5 separate regions of the Homo sapiens genome follow, and regions 1, 3, 4 and 5 are each linked to region 2. Evidence: fine-mapped expression QTL. A gene starts in region 2. Each other region holds a variant in brackets. All regions are shown on one strand. Distances are from middle to middle.

Region 1 (6,314 bases), 470 kb before region 2:
TTCTCCATGTTGGCCAGGCTGGTCTCGAACTCCTGACCTTAGATGATCCGCCTGCCTTGGCCTCCCAAAGCGTTGGGATTACAGGCGTGAGCCACCGCACCCCGACCCAATCACGTCTTAAAGGTCCCACTGCCTAATACGGCCGCATTGGGAATTAAATTTCAATGCGAGTTTGTAGGGCACAAATAGTCAAACCATAGCATCCTTATTGTTGGACACATGCTTTTTATTTCCTAGCTTTTAACCATTACAAATTTTACTGATAAAACAACTTTCTTCTCATGATTTTCTCCTTTTCTTTTTAATTAATTCTTTCAGCAAAGTCCTGAGGATTTAGCTAACATCCCCAGGAATGGGATGACTAAGCCAAAGGCTGACATTTTTGGGACTCAATATCCTCACTTTTCAAAGATGGTGCTGGTTAACCATTACTACCACAACGTAGGAGTGTTGCTGTGTGCCTGCAGCCCTGCCAGCCCTGGGTCATTTGTTTTGAAACGTGTTTCATTATTTATTGATCTTTATAGCTATAAATTGATACTTTCTTACTATAATTGGCATGCCTTTAATTGCTGGGGAAATTGCCTGCTTCTTCCTGTTTGTAGAACCCTAGGAGTCGGTGGCGGGGATGTGGCAGGTAAATGCTCTTGAGATGTCTGTGTTTTTCCCAACAGGGCTCATGGTCAGCCAGTTATGTGCCGGCTTCTTGTGAGCTCAGGTGCACCATCTGTAACATCAGTTGTCACGCTGGTGCTCCCATGACTTGCTTGGGCCTCTGTGCTTATTAAGTTCTGTCCCGTTTCTGTCTCCCCCTTCACTTCCAAGCTGTCTCATTGTTCTCAGGGTGCCTGTCTATGGACTGCTAAGAATTTATGAGATTGGAGAAGACCCAAGCGTTCCAAGACTGTCCCTAACCCATGTATGGCCAGGTTCTGAGAGGGAGGACCTCCCAGGAGAGGAGTTCCTGGGCTTTTGTTTTTGTTTGTTTGTTTGTTTTTTGAGATGGAGTCTTGCTCTGTCACCCAGGCTGGAGTGCAGTGGCGTGATCTCGGCTCACTGCAATCTCTACCTCCCGGGTTCCAGTGATCCTGTGCCTTAGCCTCCTGTGTAGCTGGGACTACCAGTATGTGCCCCCATGCCTGGCTAATTTTTTTTGTATTTTTAGTAGAGGTGGGGTTTCACTCTGTTGGCCAGACTGGTCTTGAACTCCTGGCCTCCAGTGATCCACTCGCCTTGGCCTCCCAAAGTGCTAGGATTACAGGCATGAGCCACCGCACCCAGCCTCATGGGCTTTTGTTGCTTAGACTTAGTGACTCCTGTTAGGCTGGTCAGAAGTCTTGGCCTCGTGGTCCTCACTGGGCCCTAATAGGTTAGTGGGTTTGCCCAGTAAGTGTTAGTATCCACCTACTCAGTTGAAAGCTGCCCAGTTGCAGGTTTTATGAATGAGTCTACGCTGATCCCACTGCCCCTCTCAGCAACTGTTGTCTGGTGCAGGGCTTCCGCCTGCTTTCTGCTCAAGTGGCCAGCACTAGGAGGACATGCCTGGCTCTGATCTAAATCCCTTTCAGTTGTTATTATCCCATCTGTGACCTCCCTAGAAGCAGCTGCCTCTGGTCGTGACTCTTGAAGGCAGGACTGGGAAGGATTTAATTGTCCATATAAGTTGACTTCTGTATGGGGTATAGAATATATTCAAAATCTCAGCAGCTTAACTCATGTCACATGTGGAACTAGCCCTGAAAAATGTAAGTCTCCCTGTGAAGGTTGGGCTGGCCTCCCATCACAGGCCCCTGACTGCTCTGGGGCCTCCTTGATTCCAAGCCTGTGGAAAGCGATACCGTGGTGGTTGCATACCAGAGAACTGCCTGGCAGAGTGCTCCAGGGTGGCAGTGATGCTTCCCAGGTTCCTGAATTGAGCCCAGCTTCCTGGGCCCAGCAGCTCTGGCAGCATTTTTCCCCTATCGCTGCCTGTGCAGGTCATTCATGTATACATTTCCAGAAGAGTCTGAAAAGCATTTCCAGCAGGCATGCCACCCTGCAGGGAGGAAGGAGGCAAAGGTCAGATTTGCAGGAAGGGGATGATCCTGGGAACACTAGGAGAAGAGATGAGGCCAGGTCGTGAGGCTTTGTTTTTCATCTTAAAGCTAAAGAGATGTGGGATGTAAGAGGAAAGAAACTTGGAAGGAGATGGGGGGTGGCTCCAGGGCAGAGGTCTTAGAGGGTAAAGAAATGACACTCAGGCTCCTTGGTTTGGCTTTGAAAAGAGGTGACTGAGCATTAATGTGAATGTCCCAGCCTGGGTATCCAGGGCCTAGACAGTGGCAGGTCATCAGCCTCCCACCTTTCTGAGTTTCTGGGGGAGATTCTAGGGGGCACAGTGGCTGTTCCCTTCTTCATCCCAAGGAGACCATGTCTCACCAGGTCTCCTGCCCATATCTCACCTTCAAACAGATGACTGATTACTGCACCCCAAAGTCCTCCCTCAACCCCAGACTTCATGTCAGTGGCTTTTGGGAATGCTAAGCTAAGAAGCTTTTACACTGATGCAGCATTTTATTTAAAGTAGGAATTGCAGGGTTATTATTTATTTAGATATTTGCCCGAGGTCACAGGCCCACACAACCTGGCAGGGGCTGGCAGACTAAGGGTGGAGCTGGGTTCTGTGTGTTTCAGAGGGGGCACTGCAGATGTGAAAATTTGCAGAGAGCTCTGGACAGATCTTTCACAAATACCAAGGCTTCACTGTCTATATGATACAGAATATTCTACATCATGTTGTTATTTTTAATGTTTTATTTCTTTCTTTCTTCTTTTATTCACCAAACTTCTGATTGAATGTCTTTCTTGCACTAGGTGCTGTGGAAGCAAAAATAATATAGCTGGGGAGAGAGGAAGATAGATAGTGAAGCCCACTGTGAGGAGAGCGTGGATGCAGCAGAGCAGGGATATCAGAGGACTGCCCAGTGCCTGGGGCTGCTTTGAGCCTTTCCATTTTGCATCAGCACCTCAGGCTTTGTAATGTGGAAGGGTTGTGGTGAGAGGGACACATGGTGAACTGGGGCTGAGAAAATCTGGGTCTAAATCCTGGTCCTGCCACTTACTAGCTGTGTGATCTTGGGCAAGTCACTTGCTCTCCTGAGACCTCAGTTTTCTCATCT[G/T]AGAATGAGGATGCCCTCCGGGTGGATATCAAGCTCAAGTGAGGAAATGTTTGGGAAAGCACATTGCACCGGTGGCAAACTTCAAATAAACTCTAAATCAAGCCCCCTTCCACCACTGCCACCCCTGATGATGACACCATGTACGGTGTTTATGTCAAGGACTTTATCAAGAATCTCATAGAGATTCCTCTCACTCCCACCCTCACATCCAAAGCTGGTAATGAAAGCATTATTTTTTTCACTCCTGTTTCACAAGAAGAAAAGTTGAGCCCTAGAACTCTCACATGTCCCACCCCAAGGTGAAGGTTGTATCTTTGCTGCTGAAGGATTGGAGCCATCATCTTGGCCCTTTGACCCCAGTCTGCAGAGCAGACCCAGGGTTACTCCAGCAGCTGGGAGGGTGCTCCAGCTTCCAGCACCTGCCCAAGGTGGGGGCAAGGGTCAGAGTGGGGCAAAGGACGGCCTCACCCATGAGACACTGAGAAAATAGTGCACCAGCCTGGTCCCCAACACCAAGGCAGCCACCTTAGGCCACACCCTACTCAACCCTGAGCAGAGGGGCGCTGCAGCTATGGCAGATGGTACATATGCTCAAATGTGCCATCTTATCTCAGTCTCTCTTCACCCTTTCACCTTCCCCCTTCCCCTTCTCTTTTTTTGCCTCTTTTTTGATGCCATTGATATGTTGGAAAACTAGGCCACTTGTCCTGTTTCACAGTCTGGATTAGACTTGTTCCTTCCTCATGGTGTTCTTTAACTCATTCCTCTGTTCCCTGTATTTCCTGTAACTAGTAGTTAGATCTAGAGGAGATACCCTGCCTATTGGCGCTGTCCAATAGAAATGTAATGTGAACCACATACATAATTTTAAATTTCCTAGTTGCCACACTGACTAAACAAAAAGAAATAGGTGAATTGATTTTAATAATATTTTTATTTAAAATTATTAATGAGATATTTTACATTCTATTTTTCAAACTAAGTCTTCAAAATCCAGTGTGAATTTTATACTTACAGCACATCTCAACCTGTTTTTTTGTTTGTTTGTTTGTTTTTGAGACCGATTCTCACTCTGTTGCCCAGGGTGCAATGGCACAATCACGGCTCACTACAGCCTCGACCTCAGGTGATCCTCTCAACCTCCTAAGTAGCTGGAACTACAGGTGCACATCACCATGCCCAGCTAAGTTTTTTTTTTTTGTAGAGACAGTGTCTCACTATGTTGCCCAGGCTGGTCTTGAACTTCTGGGCTCAAGTGATCTGCCTGCCTCAGCCTCCCAAAGTGCTGAGATTACAGGTGTGAGCCACTGTGCCCAGCCCACATTTCAATTCTTACGCAAAGCAATGCAACGGTTAAAGTGAAATGCAATTCTACTGAAACAATAAAGTTGTATTTAATGGAAAATATTTTATACCACTTCAGTTTTTAAATTAGAATTAATTAAAATTAAATAAAAGTTAAAATTCAATTCCTCTATTACACTAGCCACATTGCAAGTGCTCAGTAACCACATGTGACTAGTGGCTACTCTATTGGACAGCACATATCTAGAACATTTTCATCATTGCAGAAAGTTCTGTTGATAGTGCTGAACAAGAGGCTTAAGCGGATTTAGGTTCCATTTTGTAAGTCACAGCATATCATAGGTGTTGCTGTGTACTTTCTATGTCACTATTTTATGTCCGGTTGTTCTACTTTTCATGATGCTAAGATTATTGAGTGGGTCCAGGTGTGCTTCTGGAAATGTTTAAAGAAAGGAGAAAAGAAGATTTTGATGTTCTTTATTTAGGATGGACTAGGGGGCAGGGAATGATCCCCAAAGTTGGGTTGGAGCCATTTTAGCCATATAAGAATCATCTGGAGCCGAGCGCAATGGCTCACACCTGTAATCCCAACACTTTGGGAGGCTGAGGTGGACGGATTGCTTGAGGTCAGGAGTCCCAGCTTGGCCAATATGGTGAAACCCCATTTCTACTAAAAATACAAAAATTAGCTGGGCGTAGCGGCATGTGCCTGTAACCTCAGCTACTCAGGAGGCTGAGGCCTGAGAATCAGTTGAACCTGGGAGGCGGAGGTTGCAGTGAGCTGAGATCGCATCACTGCACTCCAGCCTGGGCAACAGAATGAGACTCTGTCTCAAAAAAAAAAAAGAAAAGAAAAGAATCATCTGCAATACTCAGTATGCTGTAGTGGTTGAGAGCTGTTCTGCTTGGGTTTGAATCCTGACTCTATTTACTAGCTATGGGACTGTGGGCAAGTTGCTTAACCTCTCTGAGCCTTTGTTTCTTAAAGTGTGAAATAGAAAAATGTTAGTCCTTAGATCATAGGATATTGTGATGATTAAATGAGATAATGTGCATAAGGCATGTAACATAGAGTATGTGTTCAATGAATATTAATTGCTATTATTATGTTGTTAGAGTAAAAATACAGGTTTTAAGGCCTCACTGCTGGAGAATCTAATTTGTTAAAGTCTATGGTGGGATCTGGAAATCTGCATTTTAAAACAAGTTCTCCAAGTGATCCCAAGGTCCTGGATCCCTTGGCCTAGAACCCTTCCTGAGATCTTTCCCTTTGGGCCCATGGCTTTATTTCAGCCCCAGTGGAGCACATGCTGGCTGGATACCCCAGCTTCTGTCAGAGGATTGTAAACCAAAAATTAAATTCTAAGCCCCCTCAACCAACTGAATAGACCCCTCTCTCAGCCAAGGAGATTCCAAAGTAAACCTGAAAAACTTTCAGGCCATGGTGGGAAGAGGGGTTGGACATGCCTCATTATACTCTCTGCCCATTTAAATTCGGGCACAAGTGACCAGCATTAATATGAAAACAGTGAACTTAAGCCTAACAAAACAGACTCTTTGCAGCAATAAGATAATAAATTCCAACCTGACTCTACTATAACATCACATGACAAATAGCAGGCCCTGAAAGAAATAGAAGTATTTTACCCTAATAAATCTTTTGACATATTTTGAAATGGCCCTGCAAAGCTGACTCTTGTGGGAAAAATCTATATTCTGTGGAGAATCTCTGTTCCTTTCCATGTCTTTTTCTGATCCTGAAGAGATTAGCTGAGAGTCTAGCACCTTTTAAGAATATGAATAGTAAACATTTGCCATCTATTGCCTCCAAGGGCAGCCACCTGTGAGACT
Region 2 (6,314 bases):
TTGAGAGAATGCCCTTTTATTTAAAACTTTTTCATTTTAAACTAGAATCCCTTAAGCAACAATTAGACATAAATCAGCCTTTACGTTATTAGGAGATAGCTATTTTCAACATTTACCTTAAACCACATGGATGTATCTTCTAACTAGTTAGCTTCCTGTCTCTCCCCCAGCTAGATTAGACTGTTAACTTTTTTGGCAGCAAAGGACTACTAGAGCCCATGCTCTATTTCCCAGCTAATACATTTCAAAAACCTCAGGTCTCTACAGAAACATAAACGTTGGTAGCCTTAAGGATTTCTCTAATTTTTTAAAGTTATTTTGATATGAGCAGGTATCCTTAACTGTTAACTATAGCTTACACAAGTGGGTTCTCAAAGTGTGGTCCTGGACCCCTGAAAGTTTCCAGGACCCATTCAGGGGATCCAGAAGGTCAAAACAATTTTCATACATAATATTTAAGATGTTACTTTTGTTTACAGTCATTCTCTCACAAGCATGCAGTGGGGTGTTCCTGAGGCTGCATGATGTGACATCTCAAGAGACTGAATGCAGAAGCAATGTAAGAATCCAGCTGTCTTCTATAAAGCTGAACAAAGAGTTACAAAAAGGCAAAATAATGCCATTCTTCCCACTAAATTTTTGTTTTGAAAAACATTTTACATAAACTGTCAATTTATGTTATGGGTGTGGGTCTATTATTATTTGTAAGCATATTAATAAATACATATTTTAAGTTTTTCTCAGTTTTAATTTCTAATAAACATCATCAACAGATATAAGCTACACGAAGGCTCTTCAGGTGCTCAACAATTTTTAAGAGTGTAAAGGGGTCCTAAGATCAAAAAGTGTAAGAACCACTGTCATACACAATTATATAACCCAACACACAGTGCCTTCCATGGATAAGAAGCTCATGCTAATTCTGAAGTATAATTACTTCTTACTTCTTGTAATCTTGTTGAGTTCTGTATCTCCCTGTAAAGCATCATTCAGCATAAAGCCAGTCTGTTCTAGTCCCCATTTAATGGGCTTTGGATATTTAATTATTCAGAGTCCTCTTTACAAAGATGTTCTGACCTCTAATACCACCTATTACTAGAACAGTGTATACAAGTTTCTCAAAGTTTTCACAAAAAATTACCTTGTTCATCCTAACAGCAACCTGTGAAGTAAATGCAAAGTATTACCCTTTTCTTTGCAGATTATATAAGGAAACTGATACTCAAAGAAAATAGAACTATTTGTCCAATTAGGTACTGCTAACTGGTAGAACCTAGAATGTTGTGGCATTTTGCAATTTGCTTGGCTGTCTTACCGTGGTATAATTGCAAACTCGCAAAGAAAATAAGGCAAGGGCATTACTTTTATTGTCCCAGTGCCAAAACAGGGATTTTCCCCTCCTTAATAAGAACATAATCAGATTCAATACCCAGTCACAGTATTAGTCAACACATCGGCTACCCTTTTGGTCCCCTATGAAAAAAACAAAAATAAAATAAAATCAAGAGTGTGGGAGAAAAAAAATACGACTATATAACACTCCAAGATAATGAGTTAGTTAAGGACTCACAGATTCATCATTTAATCACTGAAACGACAGGCACGCAAGAACAAGATCAAGCTTAATACAATAACGCTAGATTATATCAACAAATGGATGCCAACGGGTTAAGACGGGAGGCCTACATAAAATGGGTTCAATTCAGAGTGTGGACTCACACAAAGTTGCGAAACTCGCTTTATTGGTTCTACAAATCCAAGTAAGTGACTAGACCCAGGCTTGCAAAGCTATATGTCAGACACACTTTGTTGCAAGATGCAAAGATGTCATCCTACCCCTTGAACAGAAATCACCCCACATACTAGTTTATTCTTGTTATCAGCACATCTCGTTATGCTCCATTTTAACTTATTAAGTTCCTCAAGAGATGCTCAATTTCCTGCATCTCTTTTTCACAGTCAAGTGGACTCCCTGACTGACAGAGGCAAGACTGACTCACAAGAGGGCATCTGCCACTTGCACAGTTCTTTTCCATTTTTTAGATGTATGTGCCCAGTGAAGCCATTTTTAAGTTTGATGTGATTTTACCTAAAAAATGCCAGAAGTGTGCTAATTGTCCATGTTGTCTTTCTGTAGTTTACTACAGATGAGCAAGAGCAATCCCACCATTCCCTGTGAGGTAGGCTTCTCCTAGTGTTTACTTTGGTCTTTTTTTTTTTCTTCAAATTTCTTTTGGGAAAAAAATTAAGTTACAATTATAGCACCACAGCAATGGCTACAGTTATAGCTAATGTACCACCACCAACCAATTTGTAAAGCAGTGCCATACACCTTATTTGTTGTTCTATACTCAACATCCCGACAGATTTACAGGTAAAAGCTAATTTACACAAGTTTCTGCATCCTCACAAAAGAACTGCAATACTGCTCTGTGAAACCAATTAACCGTTAATTTTCAAAGGCTTCATGCAGAAAAAGATACCTGACTTTACAAAGGCAAGCAAAGCATCAGACGTCTGAGCGCGCCAGGAAACCGCAGTTATTTCTATTCCTTATCCCAGAGTACATTTTTCTTTGTGGACCTACCGATGTTGTTTCCAAGAACATAATCACTATTTAAGTAGTAAGCTGTCAAAAGTGCTAAGGCATTCTCTAAACTATCTTCCCAGCTCCGGCCCACAATGAGACATGTCACAGCTAAATCATACCATTGCCGTTTTTCTATATTTCTTCAAATGAACTTCAGATTTCTGAAGTGCACAATTCGAATTGTACGCTATTAATATAACCCAAGATACCAGTGACCATCTCAAAGCTAATAAACAAAGACTAGCGGTGGCACCAGGGCCCTACCAGGAAGTAAGCAAAGCCGTGTGGCCGGTGCGATCCTAAGAAGTCGCTTAGAGCAGACAATGAGAGGGCACTGGGGCTTCCAAGGGGGCCAGCAGGAGTTAAAACGCTTAAGCTACTCAAAAGCCTTATATAAATCTAATAAGTGTTTCACAACACAGGAACTGGGAATCCCAACGCATTTTCGGACAACCCAAAAGGTCTGAAAAACAAACTCGAGCAGTCCCCTCCAAAGCAGCTGTTGGCTCAGCCTCCGAGCTTCTCAGCCCGCAGCCTGTTTTCAAACTTCACCATCCCTGACGGATGAAAGACCCCGACCTCCGCCGCCCGAGCTCCCAGCGCCTCTCGGGGTTTCGAGGTGCCCGAGCCTGCGGAGAAGGGAAAGGAAACCCGGGCCGGGTTCGGCGGAGGAGAGGAGCCCCGCGCGCCCCGCAGCCCAGACAAAGCTGCGCCCGGAGAGCGGCGCTCTTCCCGCCCTGTCTGCGGAGAAGCGCGGCGCGGGCCCCGCCACACGTGCGGCCGCCCCTCGGGGGCCGGACACCCGCCCCACAGGCGACCCCGCAACACGGACGGGCACAGCCCCCGGCCACGGCAGGGCGGGGCAAGGGCGCACGCAGCTGGCCAGGGTCCCCGCCTGCCGCTGCCCCCACGCGCTCGAGGCCTCCGCGGACTCCCGCCCCTCGCGGCCCTCTCCTTCGCTGGCCCGGCCGTCGGGCCTCGGGAAACAAAGGAGCCGCCGCCGCTCCCGCACGCGCCCGCCTCATCGCGTACCCTCCCCAGCCCGCCGGGCCCGGCTCGCCCTCGCCCCTCCCCGAGTCCGCGCGCCGGCCGCCTGCGGCCCCTAGACGGCAGGCCCGGCAGAGCCGCGGCCTCGGGTGCGCTGCGGGGCCGGCCCGTGGCCGCACTCACCGCTGCAGCACCAGGACGACGGGGAGCCGTTGGGGAACTTGGCTGAGTCCGGAGCAATGCAGACGCTGGAGCTCAGGTGTGGACACTCCATGGCCACGAGGAGGGCAGCTGGGAGGACTGCGGCTCCAGGACCCGGCGAGGTGGGGGCGGAGGAACTCCGGAGGCTCCGTCTGGTGTCGCTTCTAGCCGGGCGCTCGGCCGACGGCGGCTGCGTCTCGAGCCCTTGCGTCAAAGAAAGCACGGGCTTCCGGACGCCGGGTTTTCTCGCCCGCCGTCTCCCGGCGCCCCGCTCCGTAGAACGTGTAACTCCGAGATCCGGGTTCTGCAGCCACCCCTAGACTGGAGGCTTCCGCCTTTCCAGGCCGGCCCCTCCCCGCCCCGCCCCCGGGTCCGCCCCCGCCCAGCCCGCGGGGTGGGGTCCCGGCGAGCTCCAGCTGGTGGCGCAGAGTCCGGCTGTGTTCCGAAGTGACTTTCCTAGTCACGCCGCTTCCCCGGCCCCGGGAAGGGTGGGGCGCCGAGCAGGGCACCCCGGGCCGTCCGCGGCGTTTCCTGCGGTGGGCGGAGGATACTGAACCTATGTGGTGCGGACTACTCGGTGGCTTCGTGGTAAAAATCCGGCCGCTCCGCAAAGTGTAAAGAAGAACTTTAAAACCTCTCGGGCAGACAGGCACCGTGGCCCTCATTTTATACACGAAGAAACAAGCTGGGGAGGCCAAGGGCCTGGCCCCGGGGGAGGCGGGCAGCGGGTTTCATGGGTGCCAGGGCAGTCCCGCCCGACTTAGCGTTAGGCTCCTTGCGGCAGGTGCGATCCGTAGCCCTTTCTAGGTTCTGAACACGTGGCGTTAGCCAGCCACCTAGATGCTGCGTGGGTGGGCCCGCAGGGGCGCCCATGAACCCACGTTCAAATCCTGTCACTGTGACTCACCATCTGCGTTACCTCCAGCACATCGTAGGACTTTCAAGCCAGGAAGTTCAAGTGAGATAAACGTAGCCTGGGATTGCTGGGCAAGCTAAACTCCCCATTACCAGGCGATAAGAAGGGAAGGGATCTAGCATTTGTTAGATACCTAAGGTCTCCCAGCCAGGCACTTCCCATACCGCATTTAAGCCTCGCAACACCCTACCAGCTGTTACCATCCCCTTTTTACCGCAGGGGGAAACCGAGTCTGTAACTTGTTGATCTGTATGGAGATTGGATCCCTGACCCTCTGACCTCTTTTTAGTGAGGGATTAGAGAAGAGGGCAAGCCTCAAGGGGCCGCTTGGGCCGGCATACCCTGGATCGAGCCTGCGATCTCACTGGGGCACTTGAGGACGTCCGGGGCTATTACAAATATTGCTTCCAAGTTGGGGCTCCTTGTAAAACCCGGCGAAGGAGCCTCGGGGCCAGAAGGCGAGCAGGAGGAGGGGGAAGACTGATGTGGCAATCCTGCGGCCAGAGCGAGAGGAGGAAGGAAGGTCAGGAAATGATTAACCGGGCCGGGCAGTGGTTAGAGCCGGGCACCTCCCCGCAATGCAGTCCTAGAGCAGCCAGGGACGCCCCGTCAATCACTTCTTACTCCTCCCTACCTCCCACGCCACAAGTCGGCCTCTTCCGCATAGACCTCTGCCTAATGGTATCCACCCACCGGGGGCACCTCTGCTCATCCTTTCCCCAGAAGTATTTCTGGGTCCTCAAAGATCTGTCCTTTTCCAAGTGGTATTTGCTGTTAGAGCAAGCCTCGGCCTGGGATTTTTATGGCAGTGATGCGTTGTGGAAAGTGCGTCTGCCTAGGAAGGCAGGCCGGCATGCTTTCAAATCTTAGCTCTGCTGCCTACTTGACGGCCAGGCTTAGCAAGCGTCTCTAGCCGTTCCAAGCCTTTTCTAGATCTGTAAAACTGGAAGAAGAATACTTGTCTCGCAAGGAACATGTGAGAATTCATGAAAATTGCCACCACATACTAGGTGGCCAATAAATTATAACTTTGTATTTGTTTTTACTGACACTAGATGAGAGCTGCTTCCCTGGGAAGCGGGAGGAGGAGAAACAATAATATCTGCCCTTGGCTCAAGTTCTTCCACCCATCTCTCCATGTCAACCTATTTGTCTTTAAGGCCTTGCTCCACCAACCTTCTGTTTCCTCCGGACACCCACCCCCACTTAGCATCCATAACCCCTTGTTCGGCCCTGGAGCATGACCTCACTCAGGCCATGCTTCATACTGGTATGTAATATTTCTTCACCCTCTCAGAGACTCCGTTTCCTAATCCCCTAGACTTCAGTTTAAACATCACTTCCTGAGGGAGTCTTTCCCGACCCTTTCCCACCCGCAGGGTACCTCCCAGTGTGTGATGTCCTTGTCTGCCCCAACACCGGCTTTTAAAAACACTTAAAACAAAAAACAAAACAAAAAAAAAAACAGTGTCTCCTATATTGCCCAGGCTGGTCTCGAAATCCTGGGCTCAAGAGATCCTCCCGCCTAGGCCTCCCAAAGTGCTAGGATTACGGGCATGAGTCACCGCGCCCGGCCTAAAAACACTCTTCATGCGTGTAATTATTTGTTTAATGTCTCTC
Region 3 (6,314 bases), 55 kb after region 2:
GGGTATATAAATAAGGCAACTTTGGGGATAGAGGCAAGAGAGACTGGGCGTGGTGGATCATGCCTGTAATCCCAATGTTTTGAGAGGCTAAGGCAGGAGGATCCTTGAGGCTAGGAGTTTGACACCAGCCTGGGCAACGTAGTGAGACCCCATCTCTAAAAAAAAAAAATAGGCAAGAGAGAGGACCCCTAGCAAAGGGTATCCTCAGATATGCAAGATAATAGAGCTAGTAATATTTCTTCCCTTCCTCTCCTTGGCCCCCACCCCACAATTCAGAATTTTAAAATGTCACAGTCTTGCCTACACTAAAACAAGCATGTTTGGGATCCAAACACCCATCTTGCTATCTTCTTTCCCCTGCTGTTTACAGGAAAGCAGGAAGGCTGCAGGTCTCCAGCCTTCCTGTCAGATGGTACACCACAGCCTAGCTGATGCAGGCTCCAGAAAACTCTCAGGCCTTTGCAGGGGGAGTGGAGGGAAAACAAACTCTCTTCAGAGTTGGAGTTTCTCTCTGCTAACTCAATAAGTTGGATATTCATAAGTCTAAGAGTATGACTTTCAGCATTGTAGGTTTCAACCTGGGGAGGTTTAAAAATGAAGTCTGTGCCCCACCCCCAGAAATCTGGGATTTTGAAAAGCTTCCCAGGCATTCTAGCATATAGCCAGGGTGGCAAACTGCTGAACCATGGTCAAGAATTTCAATAGACCCCACCTCCTACCCTGCTCTACAGGCGGGTTACTTCTATCCACTCTGTCCCACACACAGAGATTATGCTCACTCTGAATTGAAATGTATAAATTCCACTCCTCACAAATGAGGTCACGTGTGTGAAGCATGGGCTGGAAAGGAGATGGTTCATCTCTTGGCTTCACCACTTGCTATTAGCAAGGCTATACAGGGAGGGAGTTACAGGCACAGGCCTTCTGGGCCTGCATCCTGACTCCACTGCTAACTAATTTAGTGACTCCGGACACACTGCTAAGCCTTTCTAAGCCTCAGTTTCCTGATCTATGAAATGGGGCTGTGGGTTGTTGAAGGGTTGCAGGGCTGGGAAGAGAGCACAATGGCATGGCCTGAGCATGAGTGTCTCTTTATATTTCCCAGCCTCAACACCTCACTTTCCTCACCCTGGTGACTGTTCTAAGAGGATGCAGGAGTTGACTAGGCCGGGCGCAGTGACTCATGCCTGTAATCCCAGCACTTTAGGAGGCCGAGACAGGAGGATTTCTTGAGGCCAGGAGTTTGGGACCAGACTGGGCAACATGGCAAACCCTGTCTCTACAAAAAGTACAAAACTTAGTTGTGCATGGTGGCGCCCATGGTCCTAGATACTTGGGAGGCCGAGGTGGCAGAATCACTTGAGTCCAGGAAGTCAAGCCTGCAGTGAGCCGAGATTGCACCACTGCACTACAGCCTGGGCAACGCAGTGAGACTGTCTAAAAACAACAGCAACGACAAAATAAAATAAATGTTGACCGGTAGCAGGAGAGGGGTCCAGCACCCATCTCCTAAATCTGCTGGCCCACTCTACATATTATTCCACCCAATCAAATTAAATTGCATTTCTTCCTATGTAAGCTCACGTCAACAACCCGATTCCATCCTTCTATTCCACTTCACTCCCCATCCCGCCCAGCCCTGGCAGCTTTCCTAACTGGTCAAAGCAACTGAATTTCATTCAGTTCAATTATTCTATATCCCTCTACTCATAGAGTTGCCAGATTTAACAACAACCACAACAACAAGATACAAGATGCCCAGTTAAATTTGAATTTTAGGTAAGCATTGAGCAATTATTGTAGTACAAACATGTTCTGTGCTATATTCAAATTTGTATTTGAGATCTTTTAAAATAAAAATTCCAATTTCAGCAAAATGTGCTTTATCTGGCAACCCTACCCTAATATCACTGCTTGGGAAGAGTTGGCTCTGTGCCTCTGGGGCTTTTTCTCTCCCACATTATAGCGCTTGGATTGTAAGACAAATTATAACTGTTTCCCTGCAGACTGGGAGCAAGTAGGAGACATGTATGCACTTAATATTTCTTTTTTTAAATTACTTAGCATAGTTCCTGGTACTATTTGTGGAAGGTAGAAAGAAAGGAAAAGAGGAAGGGAGAGGCCGGGCGCAGTGGCTCTCGCTTGTAATCCCAATACTTTGGGAGGCCGAGGCGGGTGGATCACAAGGTCAAGAGATCAAGACCATCCTGGCTAATACGGTGAAACCCCGTCTCTACTAAAAAAACAAAAAATTAGCCGGGCGTGGTAGTGGGCGCCTGTAGTCCCAGCTACTCGGGAGGCTGAGGGATGAGAATGGTGTGAACCCGGGAGGCGGAGCTTGCAGTGAGCCGAGACCACGCCACTGCACTCCGGCCTGGGTGACAGAGCAAGACTGTCTCAAAAAAAAAAAAAAAAAAAAAAAAAAGGGGAGAAAGGCAGAAATGAAGAGATGAAGGGGAAGGGTGTTCCCAGGTCTGAAGCCCCAATAGTACCTTTCAAGAATGGGACTCGAGTGGTGGCCTTGGCCCCTTCTATCTCATTCTAATGCCCGCAGCTCTGGTCAGGGCAGAAATCTCTGTGGCTCTATGAAAGATTGTCTTGGGGCAATTATCTTGGTGCGCACATTGTTGGCTTTAACATATGGGACTGTATGGTGGACGCACCTGACGGCGATGCATAACCTGAGAATGACACTGTATGGCAGACGCACCTGAATGCAGTTCCGAGCTAAGGAATCCAGGAGTGGCCAACCCGAGTCATTCCTTATTTAGGAGCAACATCTGAGCCCCTGGCCCTTCCTGTGGAAGGCGTACAGGAATTTGAGGCCCTTCGTTCTGGCTTAAATGAAGGTTGCCAGGTGGAGGTTGTTAGGGGGAGGGTACTAAGTGAAAATGCTATGTAAACTACATGCCTTTTGCAAACAGTTGCGGTTCTCCTGTCCAGCCTGCCACCACTGGACTCTTTCCCCTGTATGTAAGCCCTTAATAAAACCCCATGTGGGGCCGGGCACGGTGCCTCACGCCTGTAATCACAATACTTTGGGAGGCTGAGGCGGGCGGATCACGAGGTCAGGAGATCGAGACCATCTTGGCTAACACAATGAAACCCCGTCTCTACTAAAAATACAAAAAATTAGCCGGGCGTGGTGGCGGGCGCCTGTAGTCCCAGCTACTCGGGAGGCTGAGGCAGGAGAATGGCGTGAACCCGGGAGGTGGAGCTTGTAGTGAGCCGAGATTGCGCCACTGCACTCCAGCCTGGGTGACAGAGCGAGACTCTGTCTCAAAAACAGACACACAAACAAAAAAACCCACGTGTCTTTCACTGCCTCTGGGTCTCTTCTTCGGCCTTTTGAGCCTGGTGCCATTCCCCAGTGGAGTCGATAGGGGTTTGGCACAGCAGGGATCAATCCAGTCACCCTGCCCTCCCCCCACCCATCGGAGGAGATAGCAAAGAATGGTCTCACTTTATATCAGCTGTACTCTCTACAAAGTTAATCATCAACCTCATCCCAATGCATCTTGCAGAGATTGGAGGTGGAGTGGTGGGGTTTTGGGGGAGAAATGAGGTACTGGCGCTGCAGAAATGGCGCTGTGCCTTTCAGAAAGTTTATACAGGGGTAGCTGACCCCGCAGCTGGAGGTGCTCTAAAAATGTTAAA[G/C]GTTTCCAGCTGTTGGCTCTTGGGAAATTCTGGAAATGAGGAAAATCCCACTATCATGTCCTTAAAATACAAGGAGGCGAGTGCTACACCAAGGACGTTTGCCAACAGGACAGGGGCAGGGCCACCTCTGCTTGGGTGGGGGGTGGTGCGTGGCTGAGGTTGGACAGTGACTTGGAGAAGCCAGGCACTTGCTCAGAGAGGGGAGGGGCCTTCCAGCCAGGGAAGAGTATTTGCAAAGATCCTGGCAGGAAGGACAGGGAAGAGTCAGGAATCCTGGCCTGGCTGGCTGGTAGAGTGCCTGGGGGCAGAGGAGGGAGAGGCTTCTGGAAAGTGGGTTGCAGACACTTGTGAGGGTTATGACTGCCCAAGTAAGGGGCATGGCCTTGTGTTGACTTAAAGGGGCACTCAGAGTCTTTAGGTAGGAGAGTAACATAACAAAATGTGTGTTGTTTCAACTTTTTTGCATATTATCTCTTTATGATAAAGGGTATTACAATGGCCTGTATGTTTAAACATTTTACATTTCTAACGCTTGTTTTTAAAATTATAGGGTGTGCAACATTCCAGAACAAAAATTTCCATGGGATTTTATAGAACAATTAAGAGGAGATACATTCTTTGTGCAGCTATTTTAATATAGTAGTCTGCTATATATACTTTTTCATTTCTATTAAATTATAAAGGGTACTAAGTAATTGTAAAGTCTGAATAAATCTATGTTTATAGAAGAATATTGCCGAGGTCAACACAAATTACTATTTTTATTTGCATTTTCAATTAAAAGATTAACTTAAACCTCACCCAGTGACTCCTGACATGTACAGTGCTTACTTGACACAATATTTTCCCACTTCTGCAGTAACATAGGCAAACAATTCAGTAACTTTTGTGCTTTTAGAAACAACAGCCAAGTTTCAGAAAAAAAAAGTATTTTCTCTGGTTCTTCACAGCTCACCTTGAATATTATTTGTTGGGTTTTTTTGGGGTTTTTTTTGTTTTTTTTTTTTTGAGATGGAGTCTCGCTGTGTCACCCAGGCTGGAATGTAGTGGCGCAATCTTGGCTCACTGCAACTTCCGCCTCCCCGGTTCAAGCGATTCTCTTGCCTCAGCCTCCCGAATAGCTGGGACTACAGGCCCGTGCCACCACGCCTGGCTTTTTTGTATTTTTAGTAGAGACGGGGTTTCGCTGTGTTAGCCAGGATGGTCTCCATCTCTTGACCTTGTGATCCACCCACCTCAGCCTCCCAAAGTGCTGGGATTACAGGCGTGAGCCACCACACCTGGCCCTATTTGGGTATTTCTAAAACTACTCGTACTTTTCCTTTTATTTAAAAAATTTGAAAACATACAGAAAAGTTGCAAAGACCATACAACAAGCACCTGTATACCCTTCGATGAGATTCACCAGTTGTTAACATTGGACCACAGTCTCTCTCTCTCTGCACCTCCTGGGTGTTGATGTCTCTTCAGTTCCCACCTTTGGAGAACCTGAGATCTTGCCCTGCTCTGAAACTTTTCAATCTTCCCTACATCCAAAAAATTTACACCCACCAGGCTCCCAGTTTCTCATTGTACTTCTTTCTTTGAAATGAGGAGTAAGAAGATTTGAGCTCAAATTCTGGTTCCTCTATCTTGTGACCATGAGGAAGACAATGTTTCTGGGCTCCAGTTTCCTCATTTTTAAAACGGAAGAATATGTGGGGGAAGAGGGCGGGGGAAGGGAGAGCATCAGGACAAACGGCTAATGCATGTGGGGCTTAATACCTAGGTGATGGGTTGATAGGTGCAGCAAACCACCATGGCACATGTTTACTTATGTAAGAAATCTGCACGTTCTGCACATGTATCCCAGAACCTAAAATAAATTTTAAAAATAATAAAATGGAGGAATAATGCTTAAAAAAAGTCAAAGTATATGAAAGTGCTTTGTGAACCCTAACAGCTCCATAAAAATGTAAGGGGCCATTATTACCATAAATGAAATCCTCTGATGTATTAACAGCTTAATGAGTTAATGCTCCCAAGTTATCAAGGCAGCCCGATGAACTGGGAACCAGTTTGAAGCCAGAGAGATCTAGTCTGCTATTAATTACTTGTGTGACCTTGGGCAAAGTTGTGTAACAGACTCTCTGGGGTCTTAGTTTCTTCATCTGCAAAATGGAGATCACGATCCCTATCTCGCAGTGGAGTTATTTGTGTTTGCTCAGCCCCAGGGCTTGCTGGACTGACCAGGGCTGCAGTAGAAGAAGACGGAGAGGTGAGGGTTGAGTGTTGGGGTGAGAGGGCACAGGGGCAATGATTCTCAACCTTGGATGCACATTGGAGTTATCTGGGAACTTTAAAAAAAATTCCAATGCCCAGGCTGCACCTGGGACAAATTATCAGACTCTCCAGGGGGTGAGGCCAGCCATCAGTATTTGTTAAAGCTCTCAGGTGATTCCAATGTCAAGTGAGCTAACAAAGCTAACTTCTGCTGTCCCTTCTCTTCTCTCCCTTTGGGACCATGACCCAAAAGAGTAACTAATGGGGGCAACCCTAGGCCTGGTGCAAAGTGGTGAAGAAGGCACTCCAGGATAGGCAGGACTTTCAGATCCTCTCCAACACAGGCAGCTGCGCACTGGGGCTGCCTAAGCTTCCTGAGTGTATTTAGGTCCAAG
Region 4 (6,314 bases), 110 kb after region 2:
GCAACCTCCGCCTCCTGGGTTCAAGCCTCTGAGTATTCTCCTGTCTCAGCCTCCTGAGTAGCTGGGATTACAGGCACCCACCACCATGCCTGGCTATTTTTTGTATTTTTTAGTAGAGATGGGGTTTCCCCACGTTGGCCAGGCTGGTCTCAAACTCCTGACCTCAGGTGATCTGCTCGCCTCGGTCTTCCAAAGTGCTGGAATTACAGGTGAGAACCACCGTGCCCGGCCTATAGTCTTTTCACAACACACATCTGCATATCTCTCTCAACTATTGCTCAAACTGTCTCTCATGCTGCCCATTCAAACTCTACCTATAGAGGAAAAGAGTCTAAAGAAACATATTAACCAATTGCAATCCATAGACCTTGTTTGGATCCCAGTTCAAACAAATGGTTAACAAAAACACTTAGAGGATAATTGGGAAACATGATATTAAGGAATTATTATTGATTTTTATGTGTGCTGATAACATCATGATTATGTCTAAATAAGGCAGTCCTTTTTAAAGAGAAATATCTATAGGTGAAATACTAACTACAAGGGTTCTCAGAGCAAGGCCCTCAGATCAGCAGCATCAGTATTACCCAGGAACTTGTTAGAATGCAGATTCTCAGGCCAGACCTGCTGAATCAGAAACTCAGTGGGTGGAGCCCAGCAATCCATGTTTTGACAAGCCCTTCAGGGGATTCAAATGCATGCTGAAGTTTGAGAGCCACCACAATAATGTGATGTCTTGAATTTGTTTCAAAATAATCTGGGGAAGGGATGATGGGTATATAGGGATTCATTATGACCATACTGTCTCCTTTTTTTTTTTTTTTTAAAGAGATGGGGTCCCCCTCTGCTGCCCAGGCTGGATTCAAACTCCTGGGCTCAAGCAATCCTCCTGCTCCACCTCCTGAGTATGTATTCTCCACTTTTATATGGGTTGGGAAGTTTTCCACAATAAAAAATTTTCAAAACTCCAAACAGTTTTCTCTGCAGTGCCGCCTAATGGCTCTCTCCTCACTGCTCTTGTCTCTCTTTTTTGCCCGCTCCCCTCCATCTGGAACATTTCCTCCTGGCTTCAGAAATGGCTGCTGTCCTTATTTTGTTTATGTTTATTATTATATTTTGAGATGGAGTCTCGCTCTGTCACCCAGGCTGGAGTGCAGTGGCGCGATCTCGGCTCACTGCAACCTCTTCCTTCCAGATTCAAGTGATTCTCCTGCCTCAGCCTCCCAAGTAGCTGGGACTACAGGTGTATACCACCACACCTGGCTGATTTTTGTATTTTTAGTAGAGACGGGGTTTCACCACGTTGGCCAGGCTGGTCTCAAACTCCTGACCTCAAGTGATTTGCCCACCTCGGCCTCCCAAAGTGCTGGTATAAGCCACCGCACCTAGCCCTTATTCTGTTTATTTGCCTCAAGTTTCTCAAATCTTAGGAGCTCCTTCTCTTCTTGCTCTCTCTCCTTGTCCTCTCTGTAAAAGTCTTTAAATGGCCCTTCTCATATCATTCAGTCACAGTTTCTCGCGTCTCAGCGTTCTTCTTCCTGGCTTCTAGATTCTGTGCACTCTGTGGTTTGCAGAACTTGTTATCCAAGACCTTGTCTTTGCACATGCGCTGAGTGATCTCTCTGCTGCTTTTATTGGCACTATCGACAGTTTCTTTTCTTTCTCTTAGAAAACAAAACATTTACCTCCTTCAATTAAAAAAAAATTTTATGTGATTGTTTTAGTTTGCAACATATCTGCCATTTAAAAAACTCCAAACAATAAAGAAGTGGAACAAGTAAAAATGTCACCTTGTTCCCCAGAACACTCTCTTCATTGCTAACTTCCTAATGCTCTCGCCTATCCCTCCGTGATATCTGAGTTCATTCCTCCTCTGACCTCTGCCTTAGATCCCCCAGGACAGCATGTAGAGTTTGGAACTAAAGATCACAGCCCATTGACTCTTCAGTCTGAGGGATGGAGTAAGTTAAAGGGACAGAAGTAAATAAAATTGAGAAGGCTGGGCACAGTGGCTTATACCTGTAATCCCAGCACTTTCAGAGGCTGAGGTAGGAGATCTCTTGAGCTCAGGAGATCAAGGCTGCGGTGAGGTATGATCATGCCACTGCACTCTACCCTGGGTAACAGAGTGAGATCCTGTCTTAAAAAAAAAAAAAAGAGAAGAGAGCAAAAGAGAGCCAGGAGTGAGTGGGAGGAGGATGGTTGGCAGCTGCTGGAAGTGGGACAAGGAGTTAAATGTCCTTTGTGTCCAGCTCCCACAACTCCCCCACCTTTCCCTTGGTCTTGATCATGGCTTTTGATCTCTTTTGGGAGCTCCAAGGTGCAGAAGCTTCTTCAGAGAGTCTGCTGATGAAGCACTGTTCAGCATGTGGATCTAGAATGAAGCCTCCTTGACCGCCGCTATGGCAGCTTCTGCTCTTGGCTATGGGCTTGGACCCATTCTAGTGGGCTCCCTTCCCCAGCATGTCTGGCCCTGTGGGTATACTCGCCTCCTGTTATTGTCCCCGTTAAGCCATCAAGCCACTGACTTACCAACAGTCTACCTATTGTCATATGTATCTGGATCCTTCAAGTTGGAGCTTTGCTGCTCTTCTAGGAGTTCCCTGAACTTCTAGAGGAAGTCACTTAAGAAATTTGACTCCCTGTTTTAGATCACTAATCTTTCCGGGCTTCATGACTTCTTGGAACTTGTCTTAAGATTTTATCAATGTTAAAATAATTAAGACTATGTAGAAATGTTGGAAAGTGTTTATAATCCAATGTTAGTTTTTAAAAAAGTAGTATATACAATAGGGTATCTTTTCTCCATAGTAACCAGGTATATTTCTTTGCTGACATGGACAAGAAGAAGGGAACATGTAAGAATGAAGAGTCATTATCTGGTAGGTTGGATTATCACTTTTTTTTTTCTTTTAAAAGTTCCCTGTTAATAACTCTTTATAAAAATCACTTGGCTGAGATGTTTCCCTGTTTCAGTTCAATGTTTAAAGTTATGTTTCCAGGCTGAGTGCAGTGGCTCATGCCTGTAATCCCAACACTTTGGGAGGCCGAGGCAGGTGGATCGCTGGGGGCCAGGAGTTCGAGGCTAGAATTTGAGGCCAGCCAGGCCAACATGGCAAAATCCCCATCTCTACTAAAAATACAAAAATTAGCTGGGCGTGATGGCAAGCACCTGTAATCCTAGCTACTTGGGAGGCTGAGGCATGAGAATCAGTTGAACCTGGGAGGCAGAGGTTGCAGTGAGCTGAGATCGTGCCACTACACTCCAGCCTGGGTGACAGAGCCAGACTCAGACTCAAAAAAAAAAAAAAAAAAGTTCTGTTTCCAGTCTTGGCCAGACATGCTTTGCCCAGCATCAGACTCTGGGTGGAATCTTCACAAAAGCACTATGCTGCTCATCGCCCTGGAAGAGGCCACAGAGTTATCTTTCATTTCCCTGCACCTTCCTTCTTGTTGGGACAATTGCAGCAAGTTAGCACTGCTCCT[T/C]CCATAACTTTTCTGTGCCCTTTCCCCCAGTTTTTAGCAGTTCCCTTCTGCTGACGGCTAGTTATATAAGACCTATTATGATGGGACTTCTCTCATTCACTGCCTCTGAATTGACTTCTTTCCTACGAACTGGAATATCTCAGGGGTGATATGAACCCAGGGAGCCTTCTTATCACAGACAGGTCTGATTCCCCCACTAAAAACAAACATCTCTACAGTTACAAGCACCAATACACTTTGTAATTATGGACTATGATGTCGTTCCTAAACGTCTCAAAATAATTTTACAAATATTCACTGGGATTAAGTGGCATAATCCCTATCATAAAAATGGAGTTATGGAGGTATTTTTCCTTCTCCACTGTCCTCAGGGGAAACAGAATTTCTAAAGAGAAGCCAAGTTTCTGGGGTTTGAACTTTCTGATTCTTTGAACATTCTTTAAGAACTCCAACTATATCTTGCTATCATTTCTACTTTCCACAAAATCCTGGACAGTAAAGAAAACAGAGACATGTAAGATCAAAAAGTTTTGCATAGCTGTGTCAAAAAACAGAGATGCTAGCATAAATAATCCAGTTTTAATCACAGTAAAAGGAGCCCCAAACTCTTATTTCAAGTGGGGCAGGCATAAAGAAGTAACTCACCAGCTAAGATTTCTTTATGCGTCTCAGCAGTCTTGCCACGCTGTGTCTTCTTGGGGAAGTGTCTCTAGTTTGCTAGCTGAATTGCCGTGGGTGAGAACTATGAAGCCTTGGCTGACTACCTGCTCTGCCGGCCACCAGATACACCTGAGCCCTTTCTCAGTGCTTGAGAGGAAGTTGGATCCCTGCCAGGGCTGGCTTCTGGCCAGAGAGGCAACTCAGATCAATTGGTCTACTGGGAAGCTTGCTGACTTTCACCTGTCCAAGCTACAAAGCCATCAGTGTTAACTGCACTAGGCTTCCAGCCCACTGAGCTCTTTGTCAGGCACTAGAGCCTAAACAAGGTGGCCTGGCTCAGTCTACAGACTCCAGCTGGAAGAGAAGCACAATTGTGCTGCATGCTCCTAGTACCCTACACCCAGTGGAGATGAATGCAAACTAAAATGTAGGCAACTGGGTGTTGCTTGTCAGTTTTGTTTGGAAGCACCTGAAATAAAGGAGTCAGCTCATGAATTCCTGCAATGGTAGAGAGCTTGAGTGCCCAAGCAAGAGGAAATTACCAATAATTTTAATAGTATGTGGCATCTCTGAGCTCAGGAATACCTTCTAGCTACAAAATTCCAGTGATCAGGCATTTCCTGTGGAAAAGAGGTTCTAAGCCTACTTGTTTAGAAGGCTTCAACTTATTTCAGTAATAAGACTGGGTTTGTTATGACCAAAGTTACATTCTATGAGAGGCCAATGTGTGGGGGAAAGGGATATCTGGAAATCTCTACTCGTTCTTCCCTGAGGGTTCATGGAAGTTGATGGAGTTGCCCAAACCAGGGTTGGAACTTTGGGAGAAGCAGCCCCACTTCATCCAGTAAGGATGTTTCCACAGAGGACAAAGATCATTGACATAGTACTCATTATGTGCCGCCGTGCTAAGTTCTTCATATGCCTAGCTGATTAAATGTATTCCTCCCTTTCTCCCTTTGGGGTATACTTACTCTAGGACCCTCATCTCTATTTTTCTCTTTCTCTTCTTCTTTTTTTTTTTTTGAGATGGAGTTTCACTCTTGTTGCCCAGCTTGGAGTGCAATGGTGTGATCTCAGCTCACTGCAGCCTACACCTCCCGGGTTTAAGCAATTCTCCCATCTCAACTTTCTGAGTAGCTGGGATTACAGGCATGCGCCACCACGCCTGGCTAATTTTTGCATTTTTAGTAGAGATGGGGTTTCACCATGTTGGCCATGCTGGTCTCGAACTCCTGACCTCAGGTGATCCGCCCGCCTCAGCTTCCCAAAGTGCTGGGATTACAGGCATGAGCCACCGTGCCTGGCTGGACTCTCATCCCTTTAACCAGGAAGAAATCAAGATTCAAAGAGGTTGAATGACTGGCCCAGAGTCACACAGGGTGGTGAATGGTGGAGTTTCAAAACCCAGGTTCGTATGATGCCAAAGCTCTGCCCCCTATACCATTCTGCCTGCCTGACTCCGAACGGAAGTTGTCAGATTTGATATTAGCACTACTCACGTCAGGCTGGCACTTGTGAGCTTGCTGGAATGTGGCCTGTGAATACACTATGGTTTAGAAGACGGGTAGGAGAGGACAGTGCTTCAGACTGAGAACAAGAAGAACAGGAAGGATATGGACCAAATCCCTGAGGCTAGAGGAGAGTGGGTTCCCCAGCAGGTGTGAAAAATGAGAAGGCTGTGAGAAACCTTAAGCTATTACAGTCTAACTATATCTCCTAAATGTCTGAGTGTCAGCTAACCATGACATTGTGAATAATGCACCTGGAAAGAGGTGACACTATTGCACCAAGGTTTACTTCACGTAAAATGCTAAGTTTCCCCATGCATAGAAATTTGAATTATTATGATGTTTAAATTAATCACACAGAGTGCTTTATAAAAGTCTCAGTGAAGAGCTGTTATTCCCCACTCAACAGAAGTAGGAGCTGAAGGACTCAGGGATCAAGTAACCAGACAAGAGTCATCATGGTAACTGGTGTCAGGTATGCAGTGAGAATTTACAATCCCTTGTTGGAATCCAGTTTTTATTTTCTTAGATTAGTAAACCAAAGCTGAGATCAAACACACTTCCTTTCTTGTGAAGTCCACTCTTAGGAGTGACATCTTATGTACGACAAATGTCGTTATTTATTTCTTCCCAAAGTGCTCTCACATATACGGCCTCATC
Region 5 (6,314 bases), 140 kb before region 2:
CTCACCACAACCTCTGCCTCCTGGGTTCAAGTGATTCTGCTGCCTTCTCTTCCCAAGAAGCTGGGACTACAGGTGCCTGCCACCATGCCCGGCTAATTTTTGTATTATTAGTAGAGACAGGGTTTCACTATGTTGGCCAGGCTGGTCTCAAACTCCTGACCTTCTGATCTGCCTGCCCCAGCCTCCCAAATGCTGGGATTACAGATGTGAGCCACTACGCCCAGCCGCATTTTTAATAGTTTTATAGCCAGCTGTAGCTATTTCTTTTCTGAAGTATTCCCAAGAGTTTAGGCAAATAAGAATCAATGTCTTCTGAATAATAACCATCTGTACAACACATACAGAATTTGAATGTCTTTATTGACAAGTTGTGTACTACATTAAATGAGGAAAAGTCTAATATCACTCTTTTATAATTCATTTTTCACATGATGACAAACATTAATGAGTGTGTAACTGTTAAATACTGCTAGCCAAGGTTTTGAAACAGAAGAATCAGTTATACACTCTAGTCTATATGAAACCCTTATTTTAAGGTTTGGGATTTAATTTACTTTTGAATGATGGGGATTAGAACTGCATATCTGTCTGTTATATTCTAGGGAAGGGGATGCTGAGGAAAGCCTGGGATCACCCAGTGATCCAAGTTTCTCACCAGTTTCCTGGAGTATCAGTGGCAAATATCTAGCAGGCGCTTTGGAAAAGATGGTGAATATCTGGCAAGTTAATGGTAAGAGTCATGTAAACACTAGTAAACTGCTGAAAGTAGTTTTTTAAAGCCTTCTTCTTAGTCTTCTGAGTCCAAACAGTGGTTTCTCTTCACCTTGAAATTCACAAGCCTTCCAACAACTCTGAAATTTCAATCTATGCACTGTGTGCTTCAAATTAGAGAGGAAGTGCTCATTTATTCACTTTTCTTTCTGGGACTTTCAACTAACCTAGTAGTTATAAACTTAAATTTTTTTTCTTGTACCACTAAGTATTCAGAGTAGGGTTTGGGGAGATGTAGTTGTCACTGAATTTTAAGCTATGTATTCTTTTGAATTGCTTGAAATATTTCTATTATGTTTATTTTGCAGGTATAAATTCTTGTCAGTTTTTATTATACCTCTCTGGAAAGTAAAAATAATTATTGTAATATCGAGCTTATTAGTATTTTCATTTGTTTTTACATATTTGAGGAATAGGTGTTCTGTGTCACATATTTGAGGAATAACTTCTGTGTGACATTTGAGGAATAGCTAGCCTTAACTGCAAGTAAGTTTCTTATGCCAATTTGGTTATCAGTAATTGTTGAGAAAGGACTTAAGTGCTTGACATTTGTACATTTGTACATTCAGTGTTTTTCTTTACACTCTCTTCTATAACGCTACCATTTTGCCCTATTAATAGTTACAGACAGCCAGGCGTGGTGACATATGCCTGGAACCTCAGGGACTCAGGAAGCTGAGGCTCAAGGATTGCTTGGGCCTGGGAGTTTGAGGCTTCAGTGAGCCATGATCATGCCATTGTACTCACTCCAACCTGGGCAACACAGCAAGACCCTCTTTCAAAAAAAAAAAAAAGGTTACAGAAAAACATTAATTTTATTTATTTATTTATTTATTTTGAGACGGAGTCTTGCTCTGTCATTCAGGCTGGAGTGCAGTGGCGTGATCTCGGCTCACTGCAGCCTCCATCTCCCAGGTAGCTGGGACTACAGGCGCGTGCCACCATGCCTGGCCAATTTTTTGTGTAGTTTTAGTAGAGAAGAGGTTTCACCATGTTGACTAGGCTGGTCTCGAATTCCTGACCTCAGGTGATCCGCCCGTCTTGGCCTCCCAAAGTGCTAGGATTACAGGCATGAGCCACTGTGCCCGGCTGAAAAACTTTAATTTTATGATCATATATAGTATTATAAATGAAGGATCCTGCCTTCATGGTCTTATTCATTAGTAGGCTATTATGAAATTTGGAACTGCTTTGAGTGTGTATTAGAATTAAGTAGTATTTGTTTCTGTTCCTTTTTTTCTTTTTAAGAATTAAGTAAAAACTAGTTAACATTTTTTCCCTTTTAGGAGGAAAAGGATTAGTAGATATTCAGCCTCATTGGGTATCTGCCCTGGCTTGGCCAGAAGAGGGTCCGGCTACAGCCTGGTCAGGAGAGTCTCCAGAATTGTTGTTGGTGGGACGGATGGATGGATCTCTGGGACTGATTGAAGTTGTTGATGTGTCCACCATGCACCGTCGAGAATTGGAGCATTGCTATCGAAAGGATGGTAAATGACTGCACTTACGTCTAGCTGACGGAGTCTCCAACTTCCTTTCTAGACTTAGCTTTTTGGCATTTGCTTTTAAAAATACCAAGTGAATATTATCTTGGCTTTGTTTTCAAAATTTTCCAGTCATGTTTTAATTTTAATTAGTTACTGAATTGAAAGATATTTATCTCCTAGCCCCCACCACACATCTCTGTCAAAATGAGATTTAATAGTATTATAACATTAGTAATTCATCTTTTGTGTGGCTTAATATTTATAGCAGATTCCAAGTCTCCTTTGAAAGTTAGGACTGTCCAAGAGAAAAAAAGGTCATAATCATTGGTAGAGATGAAATTGTTTTTTTTGTGTGTGTTTTGTTTTGTTTTGTTTTGAGAAGGAGTCTCGCTCTGTCACCAGGCTGAAGTGCAGTGGCGCGATCTCGGCTCACTGCAACCTCTGACTCCCTGGTTCAAGCTATTCTCCTGCCTCAGCCTCCCAAGTAGCTGGGATTACAGGCACTCGCCACCACGCCCAG[C/T]TAATTTTTGTATTTTTAGTAGAGACAGGGTTTCACCATGTTGGCCAGGATGGTCTCGATCTCCTCACCTTGTGATCCGCCCACCTTGGCCTCCCAAAGTCCTGGGATTACAGGCGTGAGCCACCGTGCCTGGCCGAGATGAAATTGTCTTTTAAAAAATGAGTAAAATTGAAGTAATGGAGGAAGGGGAAGCAGGGAATTCCTGGTCTGACAAGAGAGATTAGGAAGTCTGCTTTCTTCTTACTGTGGTGTTCCTTTGAACGTGAATGCATCTCACAAGATTTTGTTGGTTGTCTGGGGGAAGTGGGGTAATTCAAAGTCATAGTGCCTGCTTACATGGTATTCCATTAACAGAAGAGGTTTGTTTTGTTTGTTTAAGAATAGGTAATACTTTCATAGGGTTCAAAAATTCAAGTTTTAAAAAGCATACAGTGAAAAGTCTTTCTCCTGTCTACTCAGTTCCCACACTCCCATTCTACCCTCACAGATACTGTTTTTACTTCTTTTGTAGTCTTTCAGTGTTACATATACTTGAAGAAACAAGTAGAAATATAGATTGTGAGAACAGAACATTTTGATAGAATATGGAAACATACTGAATAGGGAATATTAAATAAGCAAAAAAAGAGATGTAATTTTCTTTCTATGACTTGGGTTCTTTCACTTCTCAGTTTCATGGTAGATTTTGGTCCAAAAGGAAAGAACCTATGGTGACTTACAATCAGCAAAGGAATTTAATTTTTGTCTCTATTTTTCAACAACCACCTGAAAAAGAATGAAAGATTATAAAGTAGGTAGCCCTTGTCACAGATAAGCGACACTTTTAAAAAGTATGTTACATGGAATCCCCACTGTACGCCTACATTTTGTCTAAATGCATTAAAGAGCTATTTGGAAATTTACTTGCAATGGTTGCATTATCATTATTTGTTTCAAAGTCTCTGTCTTTTAAGTCAGACAATGACAAATAATTATCTTTTCCTTACTCTTTTGTTTTGATCATGTTAGTGTCTGTTACTTGCATTGCATGGTTCAGTGAAGACAGACCATTTGCAGTGGGATATTTTGATGGAAAACTGTTACTGGGAACAAAGGAACCACTTGAGAAAGGAGGCATTGTTCTAATTGATGCACATAAGGTAAATGCATCTTTAAAAAACGTAATTTTATGGGATACAAATATAATTTTGTTACATGCATAGATTACACAGTGGAGAAGTCAGAGATTTTAAGATATCCATCACCCAAATGACATACATTGTACCCATCAAGTAATCTCTCATAATCCATCCTCCTCCCAGCCCTCACCTTCCAAGTCTCCCTTGTCTATCATTCCACACTCTAGGCCCGTGTGTACACGTGAGTTCCCTTTTCACCACTTTCTTGCCAACATCTGTTGTTTTTTGTCTTTTTAATAATAACCACTTAAAAGTGAAAAAAATGTAATATTTGCCTTTCTGTGTCTGACTTATTTCACTTAAGATAATGGGCTTCAGTTCCAACCATGTTGCTTAAAATACCTGATTTCATTCTTTTTATGGCTGCATAGTATTCCATTGTTTATATATACCATGTTTTCGTTATCCAGTCATCCATTGATGGACACTTAGGTTGATTCCATATCTTTGCTATTGTGAATGGTGTTGTGATAAATGTATGAGTGCAGGCATCTTTTTGAGAAAATGAATTATTTTCCTTTGGGTAGATACTCAGTAGTGGGATTGCTGGATCAAATGGTAGTTCTGGTTTTTGTTCATTGAGAAATCCCCATACTGTTTTCTATAGAGTTTGTACTAATTTACATTCAAACCAACAGTGTTTAAGAGTTCCCTTTTCACCACTTTCTTGCCGACATCTGTTGTTTTTTGTCTTTTTAATAATAACCATCCTGACTGGGGTGAGATGATATCTCATTGTGTTTTTTTTTTTCTTTTAATGTAAATTTTTATTTTTTTAGACAGAGTCTAGCTTTTTCGCCCAGGCTGGAGTGCAGTGGCGCGATCTTGGCTCACTGCAATTTCCAACCCCCAGGTTCAAGCAATTCTTCTGCCTCAGTCTCCTGAGTAGCTGGGATTACAGGCACCCACCACCAAACTGGCTAATTTTTATATTTTTAGTAGAGACAGGGTTTCACCATGTTGGTCAGGCTGGTCTCGAACTCCTGACCTCAAGTGATCCACCTGCCTCAGCCTCCCAAAGTGCTGGGATTACAGGCGTGAGCCAACGTGCATGGCTCATTGTGGTTTGAATTTGCTTTTCTCTGATGATTAGTGATGTTGAGCATTTTTTCATATGCCTGTTGGCTATTTGTATATATTCTGGTAAAAGCATCTTTACCAGATAGTTGCTTTTTCTTGTTTTGTTTTGTTTTTGTTTTTGTTTGTTTGTTTGTTTTTTCCTGAGATGGAGTCATGCTCTGTCACCCAGCCTGGAGTACAGTGGCACGATCTCAGCTCACTGCAACCTCTGCTTCCCGGGTTCAAGCAATTTTCCTGCCTCAGCCTCCTGAGTAGCTGGGATTACAGGCGCCCGCCACCACTCCCGGCTAATTTTTTTTTTTTTGTATTTTTACTAGAGACGGGGTTTCACCATGCTGGCCAGGCTGGTCTCGAATTCCTGACTTCATGATCCGCCCACCTCGGCCTCCCAAAGTGTTTGGATTACGGGCGTGAGCCACGGTGCCCAGCCTTCTTGGTTTTTTTTTTTTTTAGCCTCTACTATTGCTTGATACTAGTTTCTTTTAAAATTTTTTTACATCAGTCACTTATGACTTAATGTTCTGTTGTTGCACAGAATCTTTGGACCATGGATATACATGGATAAGTCTATGTAAAAATAAATAAGCCATGAAAGAGTAAAGCTAAAACAGTGAATTATGAACACCCTGGTAATACCTCCTGTTCAAATGCTCCCAGTAATGTCAGAAATTCCGTTCATGAAGAATGATTTTTTTACCTTAAACAGAGGTTGCCAGTTCAGATATTTACAGGACCATCTAGGCAAGTAGCGTAAATGCATGAAACCAGGAGTTAGAAGATGTGGAAGAGGATTGAAAAATAAAAATAAAATCAGAAGAGCACAATGATCACAGCCATATAAACACAAAACATATCCCAGATTCTCATTAGTGTTTGCTATTGGGATGTAAGGGGTGCATTTTTTTAAGTCTCTTCTTTTTTATACTGTAATGATTATTAGTCAATAAGGATAACTCTTAATAAATACAAATGCTAATGAGAGATAACATATCCCTTTTGAGTCAGAATTTCATAATTCATTTATCCTGCTAACATTTGTTGAGCTTTAACTGCAGCAAATATATATAACACAGACTACATTAAAGGGTAAGTTGGTCTAGTGATTGGGAATGATATGGCAGTATCTGATTTGCATAAAATATTGATTTCAAAATAAATGAGTTATAGAAATATAGATGCTAAGAAATATAAGTTATGTATTACTGAATTTAAAGTATTTGTGAAGGAAACATTACTCTGATTTTTTTTCTCTTCCTTCCATTTTAAGGATACTCTTATTAG

Which allele goes with the higher level. Alleles are on the strand shown, and positions count from the first base shown. SD is a standard deviation of normalised expression in the study named. Not every link is listed here.
With allele T in place of G in region 1, the expression in sigmoid colon of the gene that starts at base 3,998 in region 2 is lower (large effect, 1.0 SD a copy in GTEx).
For the expression in breast of the gene that starts at base 3,998 in region 2, C is the low allele of the variant in region 4 and T is the other (moderate effect, 0.67 SD a copy in GTEx).

The links. PIP is the estimated chance that this variant, and not a neighbour inherited with it, causes the effect.
Region 1: its variant is the best candidate, but not a certain one, in a credible set for the expression of USP3 in sigmoid colon (GTEx, PIP 0.61).
Region 3: its variant is the best candidate, but not a certain one, in a credible set for the expression of USP3 in monocytes after R848 (Quach 2016, PIP 0.76).
Region 4: its variant is the best candidate, but not a certain one, in a credible set for the expression of USP3 in breast (GTEx, PIP 0.89).
Region 5: its variant is the best candidate, but not a certain one, in a credible set for the expression of USP3 in transverse colon (GTEx, PIP 0.63).

Annotation. Positions count from the first base shown.
Region 1 is chr15:63,974,600-63,980,913 of GRCh38, reverse strand. All of the region lies in intron 3 of DAPK2 (death associated protein kinase 2), which reads left to right. Among named protein-coding and RNA genes, the nearest start is that of DAPK2, 69 kb to the left of the region's middle. The variant G/T (reference allele first, on the strand shown) is at 3,159.
Region 2 is chr15:63,502,277-63,508,590 of GRCh38, reverse strand. It overlaps USP3 (ubiquitin specific peptidase 3), which reads right to left and starts at 3,998. Exons shown (of 15, transcript NM_006537.4): 1 at 3,761-3,998. The coding sequence starts at 3,851. RefSeq lists silencers at 3,187-3,266, 3,337-3,536, 3,607-3,716, 4,067-4,406 and enhancers at 4,132-4,924, 5,397-5,446, 4,925-5,718.
Region 3 is chr15:63,447,476-63,453,789 of GRCh38, reverse strand. No RefSeq gene overlaps it. Among named protein-coding and RNA genes, the nearest start is that of USP3, 54 kb to the left of the region's middle. The variant G/C (reference allele first, on the strand shown) is at 3,658.
Region 4 is chr15:63,388,079-63,394,392 of GRCh38, reverse strand. LINC02568 (long intergenic non-protein coding RNA 2568) reads right to left here and starts at 4,163. Exons shown (of 7, transcript NR_120375.1): 1 at 4,132-4,163. The variant T/C (reference allele first, on the strand shown) is at 3,487.
Region 5 is chr15:63,645,669-63,651,982 of GRCh38, reverse strand. It overlaps HERC1 (HECT and RLD domain containing E3 ubiquitin protein ligase family member 1), which reads left to right. Exons shown (of 78, transcript NM_003922.4): 53 at 603-730; 54 at 2,058-2,258; 55 at 3,784-3,914; 56 at 6,301-6,314. Among named protein-coding and RNA genes, the nearest start is that of USP3-AS1, 48 kb to the right of the region's middle. The variant C/T (reference allele first, on the strand shown) is at 2,776.